Regions from separate parts of the Homo sapiens genome. Here region 1 is linked to region 2. Evidence: fine-mapped expression QTL. Tissue or cell type: cerebellum. Region 2 holds a variant in brackets; the other region holds the start of a gene. All regions are shown on one strand. Distances are between the middles of the regions.

Region 1 (9,107 bases), 48 kb after region 2:
TTTTTTGTATTTTTAGTAGCGATAGGGTTTCACCGTGTTAGCCAGGAGGGTCTCGATCTCCTGACCTCATGATCCACCCACCTCGGGCTCCCAAAGTGCTGGAATTACAGGCATGAGCCACTGCACCCAGCCTTTTTTTAATTATTATTTGAAGAATTTAAGATTGGAATTAATTGCTCCTTGAATGTTTGGTAGACTCATCTGTAATACCATTTGAGCCTAGAATATTCTGGTTTTTTTGAGACGGAGTCTTGCCCTATTGCCCAGGCCGGAGTGCAGTGGGATTACACGCGTGAGCCACCATGCCTGGCCAGAATATTCTTTATTGTAAAATTTAAAGCTGTAATTTCAATGTCTTGAAGAGTTATAGATCTAATTAGATTTTCCATTTCTCCTGGAGTCAATTTGGTACAAACAGTCAATAAAGACTACAAGACCAGTTTAAGTAGATTTTTCAGTTTGAGTGTCCTGGATCATGTACACAATCATGAATGTGAAGTCTGTCTGCATGAAGAATCATCTGTGGTTATAAATTCTTAGGAGGTTTTTTCCTTCTTCCCTCTGGAACAACGGTTGAAGCAGGCAAGTTTCCTAATCACCTTCTCTCCTTTAGTAGGGCAGCATTTTTCTTTTTTATAAATAGTTGGCCTGGCCAGGCATGGTGGCTCACGCCTATAATCCTAGCACTTTGGGAGGCCAAGGCGAGCAGATCACCCAAGGTCAGGAGTTCGAGACCAGCCTGACCAACGTGGCGAAACTCCGTCTCTACTAAAAATACAAAAAAATTAGCTATGCGTGGTGGTGGGTGCCTGTAATCCCAGCTACTCAGGAGGCTGATGCATGAGAATCGCTTGAATCCAGGCAGCGGAGGTTGCAGTGAGCTGAGATCGCGCCACTGTACTCCAGCCTGGGCGACAGAGTGAGACTCCGTATCCAAAAAAAAAAAAAAAAAAAAAAAATTGTTGGCCCCTTCATTGAGCTAGTGGACCTTCAGGGTTCTTAGCTCTATAGAAAGTTCTGTATCTTAATTCCTCTTTACATAAGCTCAGGTCTTGTCTCTTGTCCCTTGAATCGGGTCCTAGACGTCTAGAGATCAGCAATGGCCCTTAAAATAGCTTCCACCTTAAAAATCCCCTTACCACTCTATAGATTCAAACTCCCACATCATTTTTGGTTCCTGCAAATTTTACTTTTTTGAGAGCTCAGCAACGTAACTAAAAGAATGTTTTAAATTTTACATCCAGAATGTTCGGGTATTTTGTAGCTGACTTGTTTTCAGTTTAGTCTGTTATAATCCCTGAAATGGAACTGGGAAGTATCCAATCCTTCTTTAGACTAAAAAAGAAAAGATTTGGGAGGTTTTTTTTTTTTTTTTTTTTTGAGACAGAGTCTCGCTCTGTCACTCAGGCTGGAGCACAGTGGTGCAATCTTGGCTCATTACAACCTCCGCCTCCAGGTTCAAGCCATTCTCCTGCCTCAGCCTCCCGAGTAGCTGGAATTATAGGTGCCTGCTGCCACACTCAGCTAATTTTTGTATTTTTAATAGAGATGGGGTTTCGCCATGTTAGCCAGGCTAGTCTCAAACTCCTGACCTCAAGTGATCCACCCGCCTTGGCCTCCCAAAGTGCTGGGATTACAGGCGTGAGCCACCGCACCTTGCGTGGGAGAAATTTTAAGATTTCTGAAAAACAATTGAACAGGGCTTTATAATAAATGAGTAAGCTAATACAGCATTGTCTAGTAGAACTTCCTTTGATAATGAAAATGTTCTCCATCTGTGCTCATACGATAGCCACAAGTGGATATCAAGCACTTGCAAAGTGGCTAGTGTAACTGAGGAAATGAATTTTAACTACTACCATAAAGATTCCTTTCACACTGAGGTCTGGTATTTAATAGAACCTCTGGTAGCTGAGGCTTCCTATGAGCTCATCCTTTCCTTGGCATTCTTTTTTTTTAAGAGACAAAGCCTCGCTCTCTTGCCCAGGCTGGAGGGCAGTGGTGTGATTATAGCTCACTGCAGCCTCAAACTTCTGGGCTCAAGTGGTCCTCCCACCTCAGCCTCCTAAGTAGCTGGGACTACAGGTATGAGCCACCACGTGGGGCATGAGCCAGGCCTTTTTGAAGAGTAGAATTCTGGTTTTATATTTTAATCAAAATTATACCCATATTGATTAATTTTGCCGCTAATGAATACATTTCTCTACTATTTCATTTCAAATGTTTCTATTTTGCTCATTATATTTTAGCTACACAGGTCATTCCTTTTGAGACAGAGTCTTGCTCTGTCACCCAGGTTGAAGTGCAGTGGCGCGACCTTGGCTCACTGCAACCTGCACCTCCTGAGTTCAAGTGATTCTCCTGCCTCAGCCTCCCAGGTAGCTGGGATTACAGGCGCACACCACCACACCCAGCTAATTTTTGTATTTTTAGTACAGACTATGTTTCACCATGTTGGCCAGGCTGGTCTCGAGCTCCTGATCTGAAGTGATCCGCCCACCTCAGCCTCCCAAAGTGCTGGGATTACAGGTGTAAGCCACCATGCCCCACGGTCATTCCTATTTTTTAAAAATGTCAAGCACATTACTGCTCTAGGGCCTTTGACAGCTAATATTTACTGTGCCTGGGCTCTTCATATGGCTGATATGGCTGGTTCCTTCTCATCATTCAAGTCTCAGCTCAAATGTCACCTTTTGAGAGGCTGTCCATGATCATCTTATCTAAAGAGCTTGGCCGAGCATGGTGGCTCATGCCTGTAATCCCAACACTTTGGGAGATGGGCAGGTCACCTGAGGTCAGGAGTTTGAGACCAGCCTGGCCAACATGGCAAAACCCCATCTCTACTAAAAATACAAAAATTGGCCAGGTGTGCTAGTGTACGCCTGTAATCCCAGCTACTTAGAAGGCTGAGGCAGAAGAGTCGCTTGAACCTGGGAGGTGAAGGTTGCAGTGAGCCAAGATTGCACCACTGTACTCCAGCCTGGGTGACAGAGTGAGACTCTGTCTCAAAGAAAGAAAAAAAAGGGCGGGGGGGGGGGGCTCCTATCCCCAGGCTCTTTCACACTGTCCAGTTTTGTCCTATTAACAGTACTTGGCCGGGCACGGTGGCTCACGCCTGTAATCCCAGCACTTTGGGAGGCTGAGGCGGGCAGATCACGAGGTCAGGAAATTGAGACCATCCTGGCTAACACGGTGAAACCCCGTCTCTACTAAAAATACAAAAAATTAGCCAGGCGTGGTGGTAGGCCCCTGTAGTCCCAGCTACTTGGGAGGCTGAGGCAGGAGAATGGCGTGAACCTGGGAGGTGGAGCTTGCAGTGAGCCGAGATCGCACCACTGCACTCCAGCCTGGGCGACAGAGGGAGACTCCGTCTCAAAAAAAAACAAAAAACAAAAAACAAAAAACAGTTCTTAATCATTATCTTGTTTACCTCATGTACCCCATTTGAATATACATTTTATGAAAGAAGAGGCCTCGTTGTCTTGCTTAGAACTAATAGCCGCTGGCACATGGAAAATGGAGACCTGGAAAGGTTAAGAGACTTTTCCAAAGTTGCACAGCTAGTCAGTGTTGGGGCCCGACTTCATGGCTCTCAATTATGGGCTCTTTTTGTTAAAACATAGCTACTTTGGCAGGGTGCGGTGGCTCACGCCTGTAATGCCAGCTCTTTGGGAGGCCCAGGCGGGCGGATCACGAGGTCAGGAGTTCGAGACCAGCCTGGCCAACATGGTGAAACCCTGACTCTACTAAAAATACAAAAAATTAGCCGGGAGTGGTAGCAGCCGCCTGTAATACCAGCTACTCAGGAAGTTGAGGCAGGAGAATCGCTTGAACCTGGAGGCAGAGGTTGCAGTGAGCCGAGATCGCGCCATTGCACTCCAGCCTGGGGGACAGATCCTAAGTCTCTCCTAATAATGCTTTCTGCATCACACACACACACACACACACACACAAAGTAGTCCTTTTTTTTTTTTTTTTTTTTTGAGATGGAGTCTCGCTCTGTCACCCAGGCTGGAGTGCAGTGGCGCGATCTCAGCTAACTGCAAGCTCCGCCTCCCGGGTTCACGCCATTCTCCTGCCTCAGCCTCCCAAGTAGCTGGGACTACAGGCGCCCGCCACCACGCCTGGCTAATTTTTTTGTATCTTTAGTAGAGACGGAGTTTCACCACGTTAGCCAGGATGGTCTCGATCTCCTGACCTCGTGATCCGCCCACCTCGGCCTCCCAAAGTGCTGGGATTACAGGCATGAGCCACCGCGCCTGGCCTAAAGTAGTCTTTTATCCAACTCCTAATCTATATTTCTGGTAGAAGTAATCCAAAAATCAAACTAACACATGGTACACTTTGTTATTGACCAAAAACTGACTGTAAATTGCATCTTGTTGCTAACGTTGAGAATGGCAAAAACTGTCCCACACCCATGAGATCTGTCTGAAAACCTAAACTCAAATCACTGGCAAAATAAATGTGTGGCTGACTGAAGCGATGTAAGTACCAACTCTTTTTTTTTTTCTTTGAGACGTAGTCTCGCTCTGTCGCCAGGGTGGAGTGCAGTGGTGCGATCTCGGCTCACTACAATACTCCGCCCGCGTTCAAGCGATTTTCCTGCCTCAGCCTCCCGAGTAGCTGGGACTACAGGCGCGGGCCACCACGCCCGGGTAATTTTTGTATTTTTAGTAGAGACGGGGTTTCACCATGTTGGCCAGGATGGTCTCGGTATCTTAACCTCGTGATCCGTCCACCTCGACCTCTCGAAGTGCTGGAATTACAGGCGTGAGCCACCGCGCCTGTCCGTAAGTACCAACTCTTCACAAAATTTAGATCTGTTAAATAACACCAGTGAAAAACGGGCTAACCAGAAACAATGGTCACCAAAGAAACCCTCAACAGCAGAAGTTACAAGTAATAATTTTATATGGCAAAAAAAAAAAAAAAAAAAAAAAAAAAGAGAAACGAAACCCTGGGAGACGAATCATACTGCAAATCATATCCCTGGGTAGCAGGGCAGAAATACAGGTAAACAAAATAGAGAGGAGGGGGATGCCTCTAGCCCGGAAATAAGTGGGTGGTGGAGATGGTTCTTCTGGCCATATTCGTTTACCTTTTTTGTCAGCAGAAAAGTACTGAGTCTACAAAGTAAAAAACTGACCACGATGAAAATTTCTGCAAAGTAATTAAAATGGGAGAAAAATGGAAATGGCTTAAATACTCGGTATAAAAAATCGACCAAGGAATCAAATGGGCTCACGGATTTGCGTCAGAAACGTTGCTTCCCCGATAATTGGTCAACGTCGGTGTAACTATGATTAAAATGTCAGTATTCAAACAAGGGCTCCAACACTACCGTGGCCCAAGGGCGTCTTCGGCTCCCACCCCGGGGCGTGGGCCTGGGGGTCCCTCTTCACTGCGCAGCCACCTCTAGCCCGCCGCTTTCGGGACTCTCAGCCTTCTTTTCCCTTCCCTGAGGGCCGGCCGGCACCACAACGGGGCCAAAGGCAGTAACTCGGTTGAAAGGCGCGCCCTGGGACAGGTCAGCGGGCTCCGCCATGCGCGGCACGCATCCCGCAGGAGCGGGTGCCAGAGCAGGGTAGGCCGGGAGTTAGCAGCCCAGCCAGGCCGCTGGACTCGGGCTAGGGGCGGGGCCAGCGCAGGGGGCGCAGGCGCACACCGCCTCCGCGGCAGCATGGCGGACGCAGCTCCTCAACTAGGCAAGAGGAAGCGCGAATTGGACGTGGAGGAGGCCCACGCCGCCAGCACAGAGGAAAAGGAGGCAGGAGTTGGAAATGGTACCTGTGCTCCTGTCCGCTTACCGTTCTCCGGCTTCAGACTGCAGAAGGTGCTGAGGGAGTCTGCGCGGGACAAAATCATTTTCCTACACGGGAAGGTACCAGGAGGCAACCCTGAGGTGGGATGCGGGAAGCAGTGAACCAATCATCGCCTCGGAGGCAGATTTTTTTTTTTCGGATCTCGGCTGGAAAATACCAATCATTATCACTCCGGGGAGGCGGGAGTGCGCCACTAGAATGCATAGAGGGGCGGTGAAAGGCGGCAAGATTGCCTTTGAAATTAAGGCAATGAACACATCTAGCTCTAATTTTTCTAATGTCTCCACTAGAAATATCTACTGGGAGAGTGCATTGCAGATTAAAGATCACATGTTACATTCCCCAAGCCATTCATCATCCATTTATGTATACAGGGACTAGGAACCCAGTCAATGTTAGATGTCTCGCTCATCCCTGTCCGTGGAAACGACATGAGACTGTAGGAGATGTGATCTCTGCCTTACGCGACTTCAGCCGTAACAGGAGAACAATATATTATAATTGTTAATTCAGTTCTACGCACGCACTTTCATGCATGCCAGACACTAAACTAGGTACTGGGGATGTGGAGACGAAAGTTACCATCCCTGATCTTCAGGACTACGGAATATTTCTGGCGAGACAGATACACACAGCTTGCTCCAATACCAACGTGCTCAGCAATCTGGCAGGGGCTGAGGAGAGATGGAGACCATTCCAGGAACTAGTGAGGAGGCCTAGCCAGAGCAGATATGGGGGTTCCCCAGAAACTAGTGAGGAGGCCTAGCCAGGGCAGATAAGGGGGTTCCCTAGAACTACTAGCAGGAACTCTCACCTTTGGGAGGATCAGGGAACCTTGGCCTAGGCTTCCATGCCTCTGTGTGTATCTGGTTTTTAAATTTTTATTTATTTATTTATTTATTTTTGAGACGGAGTCTCTCCTCTCTGTCACCCAGGCTAGAGTGCAGTGATGTGATCTCGGCTCACTGCAACCTCTGCCTCCCGAGTTCAAGCTATTCTACCTGCCTCAGCCTGCCCAATAGCTGGGATTACAGGCCCCCGCCACCATGCCCAGCTAATTTTTGTATTTTTAGTAGAGATGGGGGTTTCACCATGTTGGCCAGGCTGGTCTCGAACTCCTGACCTCAGGTGATCCGCCTGCCTCTGCCTCCCAAAGTGCTGGGATTACAGGCGTGAGCCACCGCACCCGCCTTTTTTTTTTTTTTTTTTTTTTTTGAGATGGAGTTTCACTCTTCTTGTCCAGGCTGGAGTGCAATGGCACTATCTTGGCTCACTGCAACCTCCACTTTCTGGATTCAAGTGATTCTCCTGCCTCAGCCTCCCAAGTAGCTGGGATTACAGGCATCTGCCACCATGCCCAGCTAATTTTCGTATTTTTAGTAGAGACAGGGTTTCACCATGTTGGCCAGGCTGGTCTTGAACTCCTGACCTCAGGTGATCCACCCACCTCTGCCTCCCAAAGTGCTGGGATTATAGGCATGAGCGACTGCGCTGGGCCTTGTTTTTTGTTGTTTTTTGTTTGTTTGTTTGTTTGTTTTTGTTTCTTGTTTTCTGTTTTTTTGTATGCGATTCTGTCTGGTTCTCTCAGCCCAGCTGTCTTCAGTGTGCAGCACCTGTTGAAGGTGTTAGTCATGAGAGCCTTCGAGCTAGGAGTCACTTGGGAGACCTAGGTTCTGGTTTCTGTTTCAATGCTGACTGTTCATGTGACCTTGGGCAAGTCACTCAAGGTCTGTTTTTCATCTTCTGAAATGGGGAGAACTTGACAGAGGTCTTGTAAGCCTAAAATGGAAGACAACTGAGAAGCCTTGTATTCTGGGGAAGAAAGGTGTGAGAACTGCCACAAGGATTTGGGTGGAGATGCCTTCTCTGGCTGGGCATGGTGGCTCACACCTGTAATCCCAGCACTTTGGGAGGCTGAGGCAGGCATATCATTTGAGATCGGGAGTTCAAGACCAGCCTGGCCAACATGGTGAAACCCCATCTCTACTAAAAATACAAAAATTAGCCAGATGTGGTGGCATGCGCCTGTAATCCCAGCTACTCAGGAGGCTGTGGCGGGAGAATTGTTTGAGCCCAGGAGGTGGAGGTTGCAGTGAGCCAAGATCGCGCCATTGCACTCCAATCCGGGCAACAGAGCAACACTCCATCTCAAAAAAAAAAAGATGCCTTCTCTGAGAAAAGAAATGTGAAATGTGAGTGCCATTGGCTAGACTTCCCCAGAGGGAAGACTTCAGGGAAGGAAATCCCAAGTATTGGGAATTCAAAGGCCCTGGGAGCTTCTGTCTTGCTCTCCAGAGTCTCATCGTGGTTCTGCCCTTGAGCCCACTGATGATGCCTCTGCCCACAGGTGAATGAGGCCTCTGGGGATGGGGATGGAGAGGATGCCGTTGTGATCCTGGAGAAGACGCCATTTCAGGTGGAACAGGTGGCTCAGCTCCTGACGGGCAGCCCTGAGCTCCAGTTGCAGTTCTCCAATGATATCTACAGCACCTATCACTTGTTCCCTCCAAGACAACTGAATGGTGAGCAAGAGGTGGCCAGGGTGGCTGTATGGAGGGAGAATGGGATGGTGGGAAATTAGGTGGTATGGTGACCAGACTCTCTATACCCGATTTGCATATTCTAGTACAATAGGGAGATTACTTCCCTAGGGGACATTTGGCCATCGGTGAAGACATTTTTGATTGTCAGAATCGGGGGTGGTGGTGGGGTGTTGCTTCTGGCATCTAGTGGGTGGAGATCAAGAATGCTGCTAAACACCTTACAATGTACAGGACAGGCTCCCACAGCAAAGTAATGTCAATAGTGCTGAAACTCAGAAACCTGGCCAGGCATGGTGGCCCACACCTGTAATCCCAGCACTTTGGGAGGCCACGGCGGGCAGATCACCTGAGGTCAGGAGTTCAAGACCAGACTCTCGGCCAACATGGTGAAACCTCATCTCTACTAAAAATACAAAATTTAGCTGGGCATGGTGGCGTTCACCTGTAATCCTGGCTACTTGGGAGGCTGAGGTGGGAGACTCGCTTGAACCCAGGAGGCAGAGGTTACAATGAGCTGAGATTGTGCCACTGTACTCCAGCCTGGGTGATGGAACAAAACCCTATCTCAAAAAAAAAAAAAAAAAAGAGAAACCTTGTTGTAGTGTAGTATGTTTTAGGGAGAGAGTGTGATTCATGGGATAGAATAATATATATATATTTTTTGAGATGGAGTCTTGCTCTGTTGCCCAGGCTAGAGTGCAGTGGCGCGATCTCGGCTCGCTGCAACCTCCGCCTCACA
Region 2 (9,107 bases):
TAGTAGCACTTGCTATCTGCTAAGCATTGTGCTAAGCACTTGGCATGTATCATCTCATCTTCCTTATTACGTTCGTATGAGATAGATAATATTTTATCCCCGGGATTTTTTTTTTTTTTTTTGAGATGGAGTCTCGCTCCGTCGCCCAGGCTGGAGTGCAGTGACGCGATCTCGGCTCACTGCAAGCTCCGCCTCCTGGGTTCACACCATTCTCCTGCCTCAGCCTCCCAAGTAGCTGGGACTACAGGCGCCTGTCACCACGCCCTGCTAATTTTTTTTATTTTTAGTAGAGACGGGGTTTCACCGTGTTAGCCAGGATGGTCTCGATCTCCTGACCTCGTGATCCGCCCGCCTCGGTCTCCCAAAGTGCTGGGATTACAGGCGTGAGCCACTGCGCCTGGCCTTTATCTCTGTTTTGAATTCAAAATATTCTTCCAAAATTTGTTACTGCTGTAACTAAAACAACTGACCTACCAAAGCACTTTGGACTAATTTTCTTTTTTCAAATCCCTCCTCAGCGTACCAGTAATGTTCGATCCACATTTTTCAAGGACTGTTTATATGAAGTATTTGATGACTTGGAGTCAAAGATGGAAGATTCTGGAAAACAGCTACTTCAGTCAGTTCTCCACCTGATGGAAAATGGAGCCCTCGTATTAACTACAAATTTTGATAATCTCTTGGAACTGTATGCAGCAGATCAGGGGAAACAGCTTGAATCCCTTGACCTTACTGATGAGAAAAAGGTAAAAAGTAAAGCATTGGTCCCTTCTTCAGGCTAGTGGATTTTATCTTCCTCAGAAAAGCTCTTTTCTAGTTGGTATATTGGTATTTATGTAGAGCTAGAAAGGAAAAATTTTTTCCCTGGTTGGAGTTTTTGTTTTTCTTTTTTCTTTCTTTTTAAAGATCAAATCAATATACAGTAAAATGCATAGAACTTAAAAGTGTTCAGTTCTATGACTCTTGACAATTTCATCCAGTTTTAAAGCAAGATTAGAGGAAGTCACTTGAACTGTAAGATCTCTTTAGCACTTGACAGTATTCAGTGGTGTAATATTGATAATGCTGGTTCTATTTTAGGATACCTTTTTTTATGGCATCTATTGGAAATGTATGAAAACTACTTTATACTGATTGGAAGAACAACTTCCAGGCCAAGCGATGGCTGAATTGAGGTTAATGTTTAGTGGAAACCTCAGCAGACTTTGTTTTAGCATAGTCTATACTGTACCTACCATAATTATTGAATTATAGATGTTGATCTGTGTCAGCTAATGAGATGAGTTCTTAAAGTCTCATTGGTCCTACTCTGTGATTTTTGTAATGTTTTTTCCTACACTTTGTTTTCCTCAGGAATCTGCCTTTATGTCCAATTTAGAGCCCAACTAAGTAGAGTTGAATAGACAAGTGATTTGCCTGCTGGCATTCAGTACTACAGTATTGCCCCTGCCAGAGTGGTAGCTGAAATACCACTCTTGTGGTTTTGCTGACCTTGATGGCAGGATTTAAAGGGAATTGAATTTAGAGAAAAGCTGCCCCATGAAGACTAGTTTTCTCTGGTCCAAGTGTCTTCCGCCTACGCCCTCATATTCTGTATGGTCAGCTCCTTCTTCATTTATAACTCTCAACCTAGGGATCCCCTCCTGAGAGACCTTCTCTGACCATCCTATTTAAATTGGATACTTATTTTTTTTATCCAGTCTCTTGTCCGTTTCCTTTGTAGCACTTAGTATTAACTTGCAGCTTTTTTTTTTTTTTTTTGAGAGACAGTTTCGCTCTTGTTGCCCTGGGTTCAAGTGATTCTCCTGCCTCACCCTCCTGAGTAGCTGGGATTACAGGCATGTGCCACAACGCCCGGCTAATTTTGTATTTTTGGTAGAGACGGGGTTTCTCCATGTTGGTCAGGCTAGTCTCAAACTCCTGACCTCAGGTGATCTGCTAACCTCAGCCTCCCAAAGTACTGGGATTACAGGCATGTGCCTGGCCGTTTTGTTTTGTTTTGTTTTGTTTTGTTTTGAGATGGAGTTTTGCTCTTGTCGCCCAGGCTGAAGTGCAATGGCATGATCTCAGCTCACTGCAACCTCCTCCTCCTGGGTTCAAGCGATTCTCCTGCCTCAGCGTCCCGAATAGCTGGGATTACAGGCACCCGCCATCACGTCTGGCTAATTTTTGTATTTTCAGTAGAGACAGGGTTTCACCATGTTGGCCAGGCTGGTCTCGAACTCCTGACCTCAGGTGATCTGCCCACCTTAGCCTCCCAAAGTGCTGGGATTACAGGCATGAGCCACCACACCCAGCACAGTTTTTATCTTGGCTGTTTATCTGTTTTCTGACTGTTTACCCCATAGGAATAGTAACTTCACTTGGATAGGTATCATGTTAGTCTTTCTTACCCTCATAACTCAAATACAACCCTCATGTCTCAAATATGACAGTTAGGTGCTTGGTAAATATTTTTTTGATTAATAAATGATTGGGCTGGGCACAGCAGCTCAGGCCTGTAACCCCAGCACTTTGGGAAGCTGAGGCGGGAGGATCACTTGAGCCTAGTTCAAGACCAACCTGGGCATCATAGCAAGACCCCATCTCTACAAAAAGTTTAAAAATTAGCCGGGCATGGTGGTGTTTGCCTGTGGTCCCAGCTACTTGGGAGGCTGAAGCAGGACGATCGATTGAGCTGAGGCAGTCGAGGCTACAGTGAGTTGTGATCACACTGTTGCACTCCAGCCTGGGTGACAGCATAAGATCATGTCTCTAAATAAATAGGCTGGGCACAGTGGTTCACGTCTGTAATCCCAGCATTTTGGGTGGCCGAGGTGGGTGGATCACTTGAGGTCAGGATTTTGAGACCAGCCTGTCCAACATGGTGAAACCCCGTCTTTACTAAGAATACAAAAACTAGCTGGGAGTGGTGGTGCACGCCTGTAATCCCAGTTACTTGGGAGGCTGAGGCAGGAGAATCATTTGAACCCAGGAGGCAGAGGTTTCAGTGAGCCAAGATTGCGCCACTGTGCTCCAATCTGGGCAACAGACCAAGACTCTGTCTAAAAACAAACAAACAAATGATTGAAATTTTAAAACTAGCAGCTTCTATGCTATTTGTGATAAAATTTCCAAAGATTATGACCAAGTGTGTTCATGGATATCAGAAGCATAAGGACCTTTTAAAAGCTGAGGATATCTATCACATTTGATGTTTTCCTTCTCATTTCATCCTTGGGCCTCAAGATTTGCATTGTATTTTCAGCCCACATTAGGGGCAGTGTTGCAGTCTAATGGTTAAAGACATTGACTGGTAGTCAGAATGGGGCCTAGTAACATTCAAATTCTAAATCTCGGTGCCTCTTGACTACTTTCCTGATTCATAGCCTATTTCTCCAAAATGTGATAAGAATAAATGTATGCTGTCTCCAGTCCTTGGGAAAATGGAGCCATGGAATCAGGTGGCTATTGCATTCGCTGTTGTCTAAATGATTGTTCTTCGCTGGCAGCCTTTTAGGTTCCTCAGAGGTGACTGAAGTGATTTTTCTATCACTTATCTATTGCTGTACAAGTAATGGCCGTGAAACTTTGTGGCTTGTAACAACAAATATCTTATCTGCCCATGATAAAGTATATTAACAATTTGAACTGGGCTCAGTGACTCAGCCAGGCATTTTTTCTGCTGATTTTTGCACCCTCTTCACATACCTGCAGACATCTGATGGCCGCACCAGGGCTGAGTGATATAAGGGGACCATACTTCCCTGCAAGCAATTGGCCAGGCCATATATGTCCCAGCAGGCTAGCCCAGGCTTCTTCACTTTCTTCGCATGGCAGCTGGATTCCAAAAGTAACACAAGAGAAGTAAGACTTCTTGTGCCAACACTTTTCAAGCTTCTGCTTGTGTGTGTTTGCTAGTATCCCATTGGCTAAAAGCAAGCCATGTGGTTAGCCTGGAGTCACTCCGAAGAGGGGCCACACAAGGGCCTGGATACAGAGGCTTGATTTCTTGGGGCGATCACTGAAGCAGTTGTCCATAGCTCTCATGCATGCCACCAGTGCAAAGGGTCCCTGTTGTTTCTGCAAATTATGACAAATTGTGATTTTTGATGCTTACTTTCAAAGAGAAATCACCAAATTTGTTGCCATCATTCTTGACAGTCATTCCTGAAGTGGAAACTTAGACCACATCAGGTTTTGCATTCTTGTCCTATATCATGAAGCTAGAGAGTTTATGTCAGAAGTCTAGTCCTCAAAACAGCCTCTTGCCCATTGTGACCTTTAAACAGGTGCTCAGCCCTGCCAAGCTGGTTGGGCTATATGTGTGTTGTGCAGGTCCTCGAGTGGGCTCAGGAGAAGCGTAAGCTGAGCGTGTTGCATATTCACGGAGTCTACACCAACCCTAGTGGCATTGTCCTTCATCCGGCTGGATATCAGAACGTGCTCAGGAACACTGAAGTCATGGTGAGTGGGGCTGATCTTGCTGGTCTCAGGAACTCCTTCCTGGGAAATCTCTCTAAATATGCCATAGATCTTAAAGGGGAACATCTTCTTTTCATTAAGTGAAAACGGAAGGTCAGGGGCTAGGAGCAGTGGCTCATGCCTATAATCCCAACACTTTGGGAGGCCAAGGGGAGAGGATCACCTGAGGCCAGGAGTTCGAGACCAGCCTGGGCAACATAGCGAGACTCTTGTCTTTACAAAAATAAAATTAGCTAGGCATCATGGTGCATGCTGTCCCAGCTACTTGGGAGGCTGAGGCAGGAAGATTAGTTGAGACTAGGAATATAAGGCTGTAGTGAGCTGTGTCTAGAGCCACTGCACTCCAGCTTGGGTGACAGAGCAAGGCCCTATCTCTAAAAAAAGAAAGAAACTGGAAAGTCAGACGTTCTTCCTGTGCTTCTTAACTTATGGGTGTGCATGCTGTCTAGGAAATGTAGAATTTCTCTTAAGGTGTCAAACCCTATGAT[C/A]TTTGTTTGTACTTAATTGACAACCAGCAGATGGCATGTCATCATTGGCATCATCTTCACATACAAAGGATACATTAGTACCCTTTATCATCATTTGGTTTATTAATAGCCCTCTCTGTGTCAGAAATAATTGAGGCAGCTTCTTAACAAACCAACCACTACTAGAGAATACATTCTAAAGAGACTTTGTATAAATGGCAATGGGCTTATATTGAATTAACCACATTTATTCACACTTACTCTTTGTGAAAAGCTTATTGATCTTTTGGGATGCACATTTTCGACTTGTTCAGATAAACATGTTCAAACCAGAAGTATTCGCTGCCCCCAGCTCTAAGAATCTTGTTTGCTGTTTTCAGGACTGGGTCATATAGATTATAGCATCTTTTAATAATGAGGCAAAAGACCGAGAAAATGTATTGTCTAAAGCACAAGGGACTTTTTTTTCTTTTTACCCATTCTTTCCCAACATCTGCCATAACTGCATCCATCTCTGACATTGAGTGATCCCTTAGGCAGTCATTTCTGTGTTTTTGTGTGTGTATATGTATACACACACACACACATACTGATGTTCTAAGTATCAAACGCCTTTCCTTGAGCAAATCCGATGATGGAATTATCTTCTCTGGTGATTCACAGTTCAGTTTGTGAGACAAAGGCAAATATGGTCCAGAAATGGAAGGATTAAGATATATGAAGACCTACTCTTTGCACAATGACCTCTGGGCACATAAATCTAAAAAAGTACGCCTGTAATCCCAACACTTTGGGAGGCTGAGGCAGGCAGATCACATGAGGTCAGGAGTTCCAGACCAGCCTGGCCAACATGGTGAAACCCTGTCTCTACTAAAAATAGGAAAATTAGCTGGGCGTGCTGGCAGGTGCCTGTAATGCCAGCTACTTGGGAGTCTGAGGCAGGAGAATCGCTTGAACCTGGGAGGCAGAGGAGGTTGCAGTGAGCCAAGACCATGCCACTGCACTCCAGCCTAGGTGGCAGAGCAAGACTCTGTCTCAAAAATAAAATAAAAATAAAAAAGTAAACTACTGGCCAAGTGCAGTGGCTCACGCCTGTAATCCCAGCACTTTGGGAGGCCAAGGTGGGTGGATCACTCGAGGTCGGGAGTACCAGACCAGCCTGGCCAACATGGCAAAACCCCGTCTCTACTAAACATTCAAAAATTAGCTGGGTGTGGTGGTGCACACTTGTAATATACTCGGGAGGCTGAGGCATGAGAGTCACTTGAACCAGGGTGGTGGAGGTTGCAGTAAGCCGAGGTCACACCACTACACTCTAGCCCAGGTGAAAGAGTGAGACTCCGTCTCAAAAAATATATAAAGCATAAAAAATAAAGAAGTAAACTACTGCACCAGTACACTGACACCAGCTCTATGAAACGCTGATTAGAGAGCCTACAGAAGAATGGCAGGTAAAGATAAAATTTTAGACCAATCATCAAGTTACAGCAATAAGCAAGAGATCACACTCCTTGATGGGACATACCAACCCACTTAAGTCTTGCTTAATTGGTCATCACAGTCTGCTCAACGTAGCATGACCTTCTTGTTTCAGACTTGCCTTGAGTGTGTCTTCACAATGTCAATATGTTGTATCTTTTCCTTCCAGAGAGAAATTCAGAAACTCTACGAAAACAAGTCATTTCTTTTCCTGGGCTGTGGCTGGACTGTGGATGACACCACTTTCCAGGCCCTTTTCTTGGAGGCTGTCAAGCATAAATCTGACCTAGAACATTTCATGCTGGTTCGGAGAGGAGACGTAGATGAGTTCAAAAAGCTTCGAGAAAACATGCTGGACAAGGGGATTAAAGTCATCTCCTATGGAGATGACTATGCCGATCTTCCAGAATATTTCAAGCGACTGACATGTGAGATCTCCACAAGGGGTACATCAGGTAAGATGCATTTTGAAGCTGAGGGGAATCAGAGAACAACAGCTCTTCAGCCTTTTGTGTATTTGTGATGTGATGGGCAAAATAGTTGCCAAGATGAGGAATGTAATGACTGACCAAATTGTAAAGGAGGCCACAGTCTTCAGGTTAGACTAAAGTGCCACTTGGATTATGGGAAGACAGACAAAAAGGAATACTTGAGCAGTTCAATATAGACATAGGAAGAATGAAGAAAACAGATGTTCAGCCTCACTAGTTATCAATGAAATGCAGTTTGAATTTAGATTACAAAATAGCGAAGAAAGATCACCCAATTTTGGCTAAGGCTGTGAGAAAATAAATTTATTCATGGAGTATTTGTGGAAAGGTAAAGTTAGTACAACTTTTATGACCATAAATTAGAAGATGTAACAAAAATTTTCAAATCTTTGACCTAGAAATCCCATCAAAACAATTTATCCTAGAAGTTTCTCATAAGGAGATAATTGGATGATTGCACAATCACACAATTGTACAAAGATGCATGCGTGGGAATGTAATTTCCATTGAATGTAGTGGCAAAAAATTGGAAGGATCCTAAAATTGGTGGAGATTCTACAGATATGCCAATATTTATTTAATTGATGAAATACAATGAAACCATAGAAGGGAAAGTGTTTTCATTGCCATAAAAAAAAAAGTTAGAGACATATGAGTAAAGGAAGAAAAAGCAGGTTGTAAATACCATGGTCAGCTATATTCATATAGAATTGTACATTTTTTTTTTTTTTTTGGTGCGTGTAGAAATGTATCTGGAATGTTTACTAAATTAAGTGGCTATCTTTAGTAGGATTTAAAGTGTTGATTTTTTGGTTTCTGTATTGGCATTTTCTATGATGATTATGTATTATATTTACAAACAGAAAACTTACTTTTAGAAATGCTATTTGGAAACGGATAATGGTGATATTCAAGTCAGAGGATAGGGGTATCATACACTTGATATTTTACCTCCACATTCTAACAATAAAGAGCAAAATGGTGATTAAAGATTCAGCTGATTAGTGGCTGCAGGCAAATTCCCAGTAACCGCACAAAACACAAACATTTTTGGTATCAGCTAAACTGAAGAATGCTTTTTCAAAACCTCACATTGCCAGGCTCCAGAGTATGGCTAGTGTGACTCATCCATCTAATTCCAAAAAAACTTGGCTGTTGTGCACAGAATATTTCCTGAAAACTTATGTAAGTATTTTCATTGTCAACCTGAATGCATCTTAGGAGGGCAAAAGTACAGGTAATTTGTCCTGTAATCCCAACACTGTGGGAGGCCCAGGTGGGAGGATCACTTGAGGCCAGGAGTTCAAGATGAGTGTGAGCAACATAGTGAGAACCTGTCTCTGCAAAAAATTAGCCAGGTGTGGTGGCACACACCTGTAGTCCAGCTGCTTGGGAGGTTGAGGCAGGAGGATCACTTGAGCCCAGGAGTTGGAGTCTGCAGTGAGCTATGATTGCATCACTGCCCTACAGTCTGAGCAATAAAGCAAGACGCTGTTTCTAAAATAAATAACATACAGGTAATTTAATAAACATAAAGCAGTTTTCCTAAATCAAATCATCCCCAGATTTCTTAACTGAATCAGATGGCTTCAAGTAGAATTCTCCTGTAATGAAAAATTACACAGCTTCTTCCATGGCTATGCTTTGATGGAACCAGACTTTTAAAAGCCATCACCACATGAACAAGTCTCATTTGTGAAAACTATTTACTATTCTTTGTTGGAAATGAGTTTTTCTGGTGTCCTGCAGTGTTCTAGACTCTCCTGCTGTTGTTTGCCCACACTTGAGACTTTGAGAAGGCTTTTCTGTTGCACATGTTGTTTTCATTAACAAGACATACATATCCAAGTTCTACATATTTCTTTTGATCTATATGCTGAGGAAAGATGCTAAAGTTTAAAACAGCAAAATCCGTCTGCATAACTGTTTCTGTTGCACTAAATCTTAGCAAAAAATAAATATGTCTTTAGACTGTTGCATTACATAACAAAGAAGCAGTAAGGTTCCTTAGTGCACTAAGATTGCTCTAAGGAACCTTAACTGCTATTGTGGAATGGCACAAATTCTTTTATTAGCTGTGTAGGCTTCCTACCAGAGTAGCTTTCCCCGAAGTTACCCATCATTAAGGTGTTCTGTATCTTTAAACAAAATCAAGGATTTTCAGTATGGCCAGAGTGCTTTATGGGAATGGTCAGCTGAGTTTGTC

The links. PIP is the estimated chance that this variant, and not a neighbour inherited with it, causes the effect.
Region 1: DCPS starts here. The variant in region 2 is fine-mapped to the expression of DCPS in cerebellum (GTEx, PIP 0.98).

What each region holds. Positions count from the first base shown.
Region 1 is chr11:126,298,398-126,307,504 of GRCh38, forward strand. It overlaps DCPS (decapping enzyme, scavenger), which reads left to right and starts at 5,663. Exons shown (of 6, transcript NM_014026.6): 1 at 5,663-5,884; 2 at 8,173-8,347. The coding sequence starts at 5,684. It overlaps TIRAP-AS1 (TIRAP antisense RNA 1), which reads right to left and starts at 5,925. Exons shown (of 2, transcript NR_187388.1): 1 at 5,791-5,925. RefSeq lists a silencer at 5,621-5,750 and an enhancer at 7,409-7,698.
Region 2 is chr11:126,249,988-126,259,094 of GRCh38, forward strand. It overlaps FAM118B (family with sequence similarity 118 member B), which reads left to right. Exons shown (of 9, transcript NM_024556.4): 5 at 519-746; 6 at 4,318-4,446; 7 at 6,580-6,865. It also overlaps a transcript of SRPRA not described here. Among named protein-coding and RNA genes, the nearest start is that of SRPRA, 14 kb to the right of the region's middle. The variant C/A (reference allele first, on the strand shown) is at 4,953.